3 linked regions of the Homo sapiens genome follow. The protein of the gene in region 2 interacts with the protein of the main gene of each other region in a pairwise test. Each region holds a gene or a part of one and is shown on either strand. Other genes may lie near its edges.

Region 1 (2,760 bases), on a different chromosome or scaffold from region 2:
TCAATGCTGATGAATTTGAAGACATGGTGGCTGAAAAGCGGCTCATCCCAGATGGCTGTGGGGTCAAGTACATCCCCAGTCGTGGCCCTCTGGACAAGTGGCGGGCCCTGCACTCATGAGGGCTTCCAATGTGCTGCCCCCCTCTTAATACTCACCAATAAATTCTACTTCCTGTCCACCTATGTCTTTGTATCTACATTCTTGACGGGGAAGGAACTTCCTCTGGGAACCTTTGGGTCATTGCCCTTTCACTTCAGAAACAGGTTGACAACTCAGCCCTGCTCATGAGGCAGCAAACCCTGCAAAGGGCTGGGACTGGTGGCCTTATGTCAGTTGTCTACTCTGGAGCTTGACTTGGACCTCCCCAGGTCCTAGGCAGTAGGTTGAAAAACACTGAAGTGCTTTTCATGAAGCACAGCTGCAGCAAAGCCTTGCAATCCCAGGCTGGGGTCAGCCTACAGTTGTGTTGCTTATTACAACACATGCGGACCAAGAGGGGCTTGTGGGCTAGAGGCTGACCAGCAGCGTTTATTTAGCAAGGGTAGGTGTGCATCACATTGGGCTTGTTCTCACCCATCTGGTTTGGCCATTCCTCCTTGGTGGGAATCATCCAGGTACTGCTGAGGTCACCTGCGATTTGCCCCATTTCCTATCTCTAGCAACCTCCTGGGCCCCATGCCCCCACCCCTTCTAGAACCTGCATTCCCAGGGCCTTCACCACCTGACCAAAGGTCTAGGCTAACCTTTGGTCATTTGTAACAAGACCTCGGAACAGACACGTGTGTGGCATGGTTTGGCCTGGGGATCTTAGATGTCTGACCTGAACTATTGTAGAACAGCGCTGGCTTTTGGGGGAGCAGCAAAAATGAGAGGAGTGCTAGGTGGGTGGCCTGAGCATCTGTATCCAGGGACAGGACTCCAAAGGCTTTTGGTCCCAGAGCTGGGGTATGTTGGCCCCAGCCCCCAGCCTGTGGCTCCCAAAAGGCCTCTGGTTTTTTGTAATCTCAGTTTACAGCCATTTCTTAGGTTTTTAATTACCTTTATTTTATTTTGCCAAACATACCTGGGAATACCTTTTATTTTTTTTTTACCTTGGGGTGATGGTTCCAAACCATAAATGTGATTATAGTTAACACATGACCCTTCTAGCGTCCCAGCCAGTGTTTTTCCTGACCTCTCTTCTTTGGAGAGGAGGATGGAAGGGAGGGGTCCGGCATGCTGCTGGCATTTTGCTGTGTCCTGCAGCCCCTTTCCGGGACACCTGGGTTCACACAGCTTTTTAGCTTACATAACTGGTGCAGATTTTCTGTGTGGAGATGTTGCCTTGACCAGCCTTGGCTGGACTTTACCAGGCATGCAGAAGCCTGTACCAACACAGACTACAGCACCCAGGAGGTGCGAGTGTGGCTGCTCAGCGGTTATAACAGGCCTGACTGCATTGTTCACCGGATTATAATGAGCCAAAATGTTTCCCGGTGTTTGCTGGTTTCAGGGAAGGAGTTTGATATAGCAGATTAACCACCCTCCTTGTAGCTATTGGGGCTTAATGGTTTCCTGGTGATTCTTACCAATCCACAATAAACATGGCCCATTGGCATATCTGCTGCACAAGTGTCCTATCTCACCAATCTGGGTTTTTGTTCTCAGTAACTTTCCTTCTTGTCATACAACATCTTCATTCCTCTTTCTGAACCCTCCCTTCCCCTACCCCAACCCAGAGCCCACTTTGTCTCCACTCCTGATACTACACTACCTGGCAGGTGGCATGAGTGCAGGGCCCCTGGCTTCCTCTCCTAATCTAGGCACAAGCCCAACCAAAGAACAAGAGCCAAATCAAACAAGGCAGGCAGGGGTGGACTACAGTCACAGGGCAACTATAGTTGAAGCCCCCCAGCCCCAGGGCTGGATGGACGGGGGAGGCTGGGGTTTAAGTCCCAAAAGGCAGCAGGCCCTGGGGGGGTAGGGGGACGCTCAGGCAGCAGGGCACAGCTGAGGGGACAGGAGTGATAGCAGCAACAGAACAGTGAGGCTGAGAGGCTGGACGCTGTGCGCCTGGCTCAGCTTCAGCTCCACCTCCACGGGGTAGTGGTCACTGATGTTGAGGGCCTGGGAATGGGTGGTGGGGCAGTGTCAGTGCCCGGGGCCGAGGGGCTTCCCTGTGACCCTGCTGCTGCCCTCCCTCCTCATGCCAGCCCCATCCCTTCACCTCCTCCTCGGTGAGCTGGAAGCTCGTGGGGAAGTCAAAGGCAGCCGCAGTGTGCAGCAGACTCCGGCAGCGCTCCCCGTGCAGCACGACGCGGTCATAGGTGCAGTGGGTGCTGGCCCGCACTGTGGTGTCCTCCCCATCGGCAATCACCCAGTGGAAGCCTGGCTCAGTCCGCAGCTCCAGCTTGTCCAGGCGCTTTTTGGTCAGTGAAGCGCAGTCAGCATTGAAGTCCCCAAGCAGGATCACGTCCTAGAGACACAGCAGCCATCAGGCTGGCCGCTGGGCCACCCTATCCTTGTCCCTCCTGTACAAACTGCCCAGGCCTACCTTGCTCTGCCAGTGCTGGGAGACCTCCAGAAACACATCGTAGAGGGCGTTCAGCTCCTTCTCTACGGCCTTAGGAGTGGTGTGCAGCGGGACCAACACCAGGCTGGGAAGGACTGCAAGGCCCAGGGACCGAGGGCTGCCATCCACTCCTGGACCTTCTCCCCCTAGCCCGTCTGGGTGAGGAAGCCCCCAGTGGAGCCAGCCAGAACTCCCCTTCTGCTCCCACA
Region 2 (3,731 bases):
TAGCTGTAATTCAAGGCTTCCAAATGAGATTTTTATGCAGAAAAACACGACCCAAAGGATGAACAACTTTAAAAAAGACATTATCGAATTTAAATTTATTTTAAGACAAGGTTCTAACTTGACATTTAAAGTGCAAGCAAGTACTGTGGTAAGCAGTGTTACAAACTAAAAATTCAATTTAAAATGTTCGCATCCTGTTCAAAACCTTCTAAATCTTTGAACCACAGCAGCAAGAATACAACACGGAGTGCCAGGCTGCCCCAAAGTCAGTCACCCTTTTCTACATGTGCTAATAAGTTTGATTTTGGAAGGACAATGTGTACATTCCCCAGACAGGCAGAGTGTGTGTGAAACACGCTAGTCCATGCTGTGCTACTCAGTGAGCGTCAGTGGGGACAGGACAAGCTGAAAATGGCTCTCATCTGTCTTCTGTGCTCCAGACAGAGCTTTAACTCCTTCAGAGCCTTGATGAGAAGGGGATGGGATTGGAAATCAAAACTGGAAAGTAGCTCAACACATTTTTATCTTGCCTATGTTTTACATAAAACGTGCACACAACTATATAGAAGTACCTTAGGAAGAGTTGTTTCACATGACGAGAAAAAAGTTAAAAACAATCTGAATGCCCCTAATCATATAAAACACTCTGAGAGGAAATTTCTAAAAGAACCACAATAATAATAATAATAATAATAATAATAATAATAGTGGTTTTTGTTTTAAATGCAAGGACACTTTAAGATCTTACCTTAAAAATACACTGTATATATAAACTATAGTCTCTCCGTGTTTGCAAAACCTTAAGTAAATGTACATATATTCATTATCATATTCTAGGCGTTCATTATAGTCCTTTTTCTCAGTACTGCAGAGTGTTAAAAAAAAAAAAAATCTGAATGTCCCCTAAGGAGTTAAACAGGAATAGTATATTTTCATGCATCTCCTGCTTTGACAGATGAAAAATGTCAACTGTCCTGTTTTTATTTTCAAGCTTTTGCACTATTCATCTGGTTCATTAGTGCATCTCGATGCTGCCCCTGACAGCTGCTCGCCCTCTCCTCCCAGCAGCTGAATTTTTCAGGCTAATTTGATCCTCCACACTGAGACGATCGCTAGAATGATTGACTTACTCCCTGACCTCCAGGGTCTGACTTTCCTGATTAGTATTCTGGGGGTGTCGGAGGGACGAAAGCCCACTGTCTGTCTTCGGGGCTGGTGGCAGCTCTCTTTTTTTTTGAACTGTAAGCCACCAACCTACAACCCTGTAAGGATGCAATTGCTGCGCTGAACAATAAAGGAAATGTGTAAAACCTACTTTTCCATGTAAAGGTCCGTGTAGCAAAAGCACAGCATCTTGATTTTAATTAGTAAAGTCTACTTTGTTGCATATCAATTAAAACTGTACTGCTAGTTTTTTTTTTTTTTTGAGGTTTCAGGAATATTTGAAAGTCTAATTTTCTGAGTTTAAAATACATTTTCAAAAAAGGCTTCCTACGTCTTCATTGTTAATAGTAATTTTTTAGTGGGTACAATACAAAATACGTGATGTTATGACCAATTTTTAAAAGCCAAACTGTTAGCTATTTCTATTAACAGTACATTGAAACACAACTGAAAGGAAATAGAACATAAATTTAAATTAAAGCTTTAGAAAAATTCTAGTTCTTCTAAAAGATTTGCATGGAGAAATCAAGAAAATGCGTTGAGATGAAAACTAACATTAGCATGATAATACTTTAACTCAAAATCATCCACAATACATATAACTCATGGATGTAGAAATGTCCAAAGATGTTATTTTTATTTTTGTGGCATTTTAAGTCCATACAAAAATGGGACACCGTCTCTCAAAGGCAAATTCAAAATGTGATAAATTATTTCAGTTTTGACATGAGTATGCTAAATCTAAAAGAATTATGCAAACTTCCTCTCAAAAACCACTTACTACCTCAACAGAACTTTTTCTTTTTTATTGCTAAATTTAATCTAGTTATTGGAAACCAATTTGCTGTTTACTTTTAGGGATTTGAAGAGAATATGTTGCTTTGATAATATTAGACTATGGCCTAAAGGAATCTAAGGTTAACTAAACAAATATAAAATATTTTAAATGTACAGAGTGACTAACTTTTAAACATTATAGTAACAATATAAACAATCCAGTTCTTTTTAGGATTGTACCAAATTATTAACAAAATATAACACAGTGAGCGTAATTTCTTGTAATCTCGTGCACATATAAAAACATGTTTTGTTACATTACTGACTCATAATTTTTCATAACAAAAATTATCCAAAGTATGAGTTTATTTAAGAATATTTAAAAATCCTTTCATTTTAAGTAGTTGTTAGTCACTTTAGTAGGAAGGACAAAACAAATAATTTCAGGTTCCTTAAATTAAGGAAATTTGAATCTGCAATGAATAAAATAATAAAAGATCATGACATACATTTTTAAAGAGTCAAAAAACACCTCCTAATGCTCTACTTCCAAGTAATGGTGGTACAATTAAAATAGATGATTTCATCATATATTTCATTTAATTCTGGAGGACAAGAGACAGGAAATATATATAGTAGGAAATGCATTGGTTTCTATTTATCCTCTTTAGACTTCTCTCATATACACAGAGATATGAAAATGATTCCTACACAGGGATATGAAAATGCTTCCATGTATTACATTTCCTCACTTTATTAAAACCTACTTAGATATAGACTAATTTTTAATTAACAGCTTTGACTCGAAGCCTATATTCCTAGGAAAATTATCATTCAATTAAAAAAACAAAATTACAGAAGTCACTAGCTTGAGATACTTTTATACCAACACAGATGTAAAATGTGTTACTAACATGCTTTCTTTTATCCACCCAAATTATTACAGTGCAACATTTCTAGAGGACCTACCTACATGATTCCATCTTCCTTTGATAAATGATCACCAGTAGAACAAAAGAGAGAGTATTTCACTGAGCTTTACCAATACAAATTGTTACTCATGGAAACTAAATTGATAACCTAGAAGAACTATCTGTTTGCATACTATCCTTAATGCTAAATTACACCTGTGTAAAAGTGAAATAAAATATTGATAAAAATATTTACTATACTTTCATATATTAAATCCAATCCATTATGCCACTCCTGTAATGCATGGATCAAGATTTACAGATGTTCAAACGTATATTTTTACAAATGCAAGATATAGAGAAAGGCGTTATATTAACATAAAAGTTAATGCTTTAAAAATAAACTTCTCATCAAAAGAACACAATTTAAAAATATATTAGATGTGTAGGAATGTATAGTTATTAAATTCCATTATACAAAGTTATTAACCCAACGAAAATTCTTCACAATTAAAAAGGTGATTCTTAAACATCCAGAAAAAAGTAAGTATATACTATAAGGATAGAGGAAATATACTAAGTAAAACTGCATCAATATTTGGAATTTATCAACATTACCTACCTCATATAGTAGACAGCCAAGAGACCAGATGTCAGATTTGAAGTTGTATCCATTTTCATGTATTCTCTCTGGAGACATGTAATAAGGCGTACCAACTGCAAAAAAACAAACCAAATAAAGTAAGAGGTATATAAAAATAAAGATACAGCTGTGGTCAGAAACTACATACAAAATTTTGAATTTAAAAACATCACCAAAATAATTCATTAGGATCGAAAGCTGTTTTTGAGAATACTAAAAACTTTTTAATTTCTTCT
Region 3 (3,731 bases), on a different chromosome or scaffold from region 2:
GGGTACAAAGTTACAGTTAGGAAGAAGAAATTGGGTGTTCCATTGCACAGGAGGGCAATGATAGTTGACAGTAAAATATCATGGCCAGGCATGGTGGCTCATGCCTGTCATCCCAGCACTTTGGGAGGCCAAGTCGGGCAGATCACTTGAGGTCAGGAGTTTGACAGCAGCCTGGCCAACATGGTGAAACCCTGTCTCTACTAAAAATACAAAAATTAGACGGGTGTGGTGGTGGGCGCCCATAATGCCAGCTACTCAGGAGGCTGAGGCAGGAGAATCGCCGGAACCTGGGAGCTGGAGGTTGCAGTGAGTCAAGATGGCGCCGCTGCACTCCAGCCTGGGCGACAGACCAGGACCCTGTCTCAAAATAGTAAATAAAAATAATTTTTAAAAGATGCTGCTAGGGTAAGCGTCCTGGACTGGTGACTGATGATGAGACTCTGGACTGAGGGGTCTCCCATGGTGCCAGTCTCCCTGTGCCACTTCCTGGCAAATGACCAGGCTCCCAAGTCAGAGCCCTGCTGGCCAAGGAATTGGCTTCAGGTGGGAGCCCCAGGAACCCTGGTGAGTGAAAGATCCAGAACCCAGAGCCCCAGCATGTCCTTTCCGAATGGCTCAAAGTATCCCGCCGGACATTTCAGGCCTGTAGTCCCTCCAAGCAGCCCAAGGAGCAGCACCTGAATCGTGCCCGCCAGATACCAGGCATGGCCATCCACAGTCTCACCTGGAACACACAGCCCCTCCAGCTGCTCCTGCCTCTCAGAGGCTTCCCTGGCCGTGAGCAGTCACTCCACCAGGAGCGAACCTGACCTTGGCACTCCAGGGTCCCTGCAAACCCGCCACATTAGAGCACCTCTTGGCACCGCCATGCAGGCAGCCCTGGTTCATCCACAGCTGACCCAGAGCAGGCCTCTGCCCGCCTTCCCCGCATGGCCAGCTCAGATCCCTGGGAAAGGCTGGGCTCTCCCCACCTGCAGAGGAGCCCCCTGCCTTCCAGGAACCTCTGCAGTGGAGCTGCCACTGCTCCAAGTAAGGCAGACAGTGGGAAAGGGGAGTCCAGAGTCCTGGCCCCAAGAGACCTAAGCTGCCTTTGAGAAGCTGCACCCACAGTGAGAAGCCCACGCCACTCCTGAGAAGCGGGAGATCCAGGGAAGTGGGACCTTTTTTTTTTTCTTTTTTTCTTGAGACAGGGTCTCGTTCTGTTGCCCAGGCTGGAGTGCAGAGGTGCAATCTCGGCTCATTGCAGCCTCCATCTCCTGGATTCAAGCGATCCTCCCACCTCAGCCTCCCCAGAAGCTGGGACTACAGGTGTGCAACACCATGTCCAACTAATTTTTGTATTTTTAGTAGAGACGGGGTTTCACCATGTTGGCCAGGCTGGTCTCGAACTCCCAACCTCAACTGATCCGCCTGCCTCCACCTCCCAAAGAACTGGGATTTTAGGCATGAGCCACCGCGCCCGGCCCCTTTTTTCTTTTTTCCTATCAGAACCTCAAATGACTGGCAAGGAAGGGGGAGAAGGTTATTTGGTGACAGGAACAATGGGCCAAGGGTGGGGACTGTATGAAGTTTGAGGAGAGGCAGATGCTCCTAGCCTCGGAAGAGGTGGGGGATTCCAGCAGGGCTTCTGGGAGTGGTTGGAGGCAGGCTGTCACTAGCCCAGGCGCTCAGCAGCCCCACTCCTGGCCATCCGCATCCCCAACGGTGGCCCCCAGACCCAAGCCACAGAGCCTCCCCTAGAGCGGAAGCAGAAGGGGCCCCACCAGGAAGCTGTGTGCTCACAGGGAGGTGTTGCAAGAAGCTCAGGGAGAAAGCCCAGGAGAAGCAGAGGGGGCCTCTCTGCCCCAGGCCCTCTGAGGCTGTCAGCGAGAGCAGGAGCACCTTAGAAGCTCAAGCTCTGGCCCCCGCTGAAAGCCCTGCCACAGATCCAGCTCGTGGACCAGCTGTGCAAGCCAGGGCAAGCCCCATCCCAGAGCCTCAACCTTGCGTACCTATTTTTTTTTCTTTTTTTTTTTTTGAGATGGAGTCTCACTCTGTCACCCAGGCTGGAGTGCAATGGCAGGATCTCAGCTTACTGCAACCCCTGCCTCCCAGGTTCAAGCGATTCTCCTGCCTCAGCCTCCCAAGTAGCTGGGATTACAGGCGCCTGCTACCACACCCAGCTAATTTTTTGTATTTTTAGTAGAGACAGGTTTTCACTATGTTGGCCAGGCTGGTCTTGAACTCTTGACATCAGGCAATCCACCCGCCTTGGCCTCCCAAAGTGCTGGGATTACAGGCGTGAGCCACTGCGCCTGGCCTTTTTTTTTTTTTTCAACTGAGACAGACACAGAGTCTCACTCTGTCACCCAGGCTGGAGTGCAGCGGCGCGATGTCAGCTCACTGCAACCTCCACCTCCCGGGTTCAAGGAATTCTCCCACCTCAGCCTTCCGAATAGCTGGGATGACAGGTGCATGCCACCATGCCCGACTCATTTTTTTTTTTGAGATTGAGTCTCACTCTGTCGCCCAAGCTGGAGTCCAATGGCGTGATCTTGGCTCACTGCAACCCTTCCTTCCCAGGTTCACGCGATTCTCCTGCCTCAGCTTCTCTAGTAGCTGGGACTACAGGCACGCACCACCACACCTGGCGAATTTTTGTATTTTTAGTAGAGATGGGGTTTCTCCATGTTGTTCAGGCTGGTCTCGAACTCCTGACCTCAGGTGATCCACCCGCCTCGGCCTCCCAAAGTGCTGGGATTACAGGCGTGAGCCACCACGCCCGGCCCCAGCTAGTTTTTTTATTTTTAGTAGAGATGGGTTTTTGCCATGCGGGCCAGGCTGGTCTGGAACTCCTGACCTCAAGTGATCCGCCCACCGGACCTCCCAAACTGCTGGGATGACAGGTGTGAGCTGCCACGCCGGGCCAGCCTTGTGCATCTGTAAAATGGGGGTGCATTGCCTTACTGCCCTGTGGGGATTTGGGAGTGGAGGGTACGGATTTAGGGACAGGCAGGCAAGGTGCTTGCCTGGAAGCTGCTTGTGTTTTCATGAAGGCATTAACTTTGGAGTGGAGGGTACGGATTTAAGGACGGATTTAAGGACAGATTTAGGGACATGCAGGGAGTGGAGCGTACAGATTTAGGGACAGGCAGGCAAGGTGCTTCCCTGGAAGCTGCTTGTGTTTTCATGAAGGCATTAACTTTGGAGTGGAGGGTACGGATTTAAGGACAGATTTAGGGACATGCAGGGAGTGGAGGGTACAGATTTAGGGACAGGCAGGCAAGGTGCTTGCCTGGAAGCTGCTTGTGTTTTCATGAAGGCATTAACTGTGGAGCTGGGCAGGAGGTGCGGGCCTGCTCCCTATTCACCCAGCACAAACTTCTAAGAAACCTTTGGCAGCCTCCCTCCCCTGCCACTGCCACACCTGCCTGCAGGCCACACCTCCCCCTGAGTTTCAGGCCCAAGTTCTGCCTGGACATCCCCTCAGCTACCTTGAACACAACAGGTCTAAGTAAATCAGGCTGGGCGTGGTGGCTCACGCCTGAAATCTCAGCACTTTGGTAGGCTGAGGTGGGCGGATCACGAGGTCAGGAGTTCAAGGCCAGCCTGGCCAATGTAGTGAAACCCCAGCTCTACTAAAAATACAAAAATTAACTAGGCATGGTGGTGGGCGCCTGTAATCCCAGCTACTTGGGAGGCTGAGGCAGGAGAATCGCTTGAATCCAAGAGGCAGAGGTTGCAGTGAGCTG

What was found.
Region 1: the proteins of NEK7 (region 2) and DNASE1L1 interact in binary tests that used the Homo sapiens proteins (3 or more experiments, as listed by UniProt).
Region 3: the proteins of NEK7 (region 2) and PRAM1 interact in binary tests that used the Homo sapiens proteins (3 or more experiments, as listed by UniProt).

What each region holds. Positions count from the first base shown.
Region 1 is NC_000023.11:154,400,736-154,403,495, forward strand, and holds the end of DNASE1L1 (deoxyribonuclease-1-like 1 precursor), read right to left. Parts: intron 2,647-2,760; coding exon 2,534-2,646; intron 2,456-2,533; coding exon 2,207-2,455; intron 2,107-2,206; coding exon 1,972-2,106; 3' UTR 501-1,971; downstream 1-500. Other genes in the region: RPL10 (large ribosomal subunit protein uL16), read left to right, coding at 1-288.
Region 2 is NC_000001.11:198,292,783-198,296,513, reverse strand, and holds part of NEK7 (serine/threonine-protein kinase Nek7), read right to left. Parts: exon of another isoform or gene 3,576-3,731; intron 3,570-3,575; coding exon 3,475-3,569; intron 1-3,474. UniProt on the Homo sapiens protein: Protein kinase which plays an important role in mitotic cell cycle progression. Required for microtubule nucleation activity of the centrosome, robust mitotic spindle formation and cytokinesis.
Region 3 is NC_000019.10:8,492,633-8,496,363, forward strand, and holds part of PRAM1 (PML-RARA-regulated adapter molecule 1), read right to left. Parts: intron 1-3,731. UniProt on the Homo sapiens protein: May be involved in myeloid differentiation. May be involved in integrin signaling in neutrophils. Binds to PtdIns(4)P.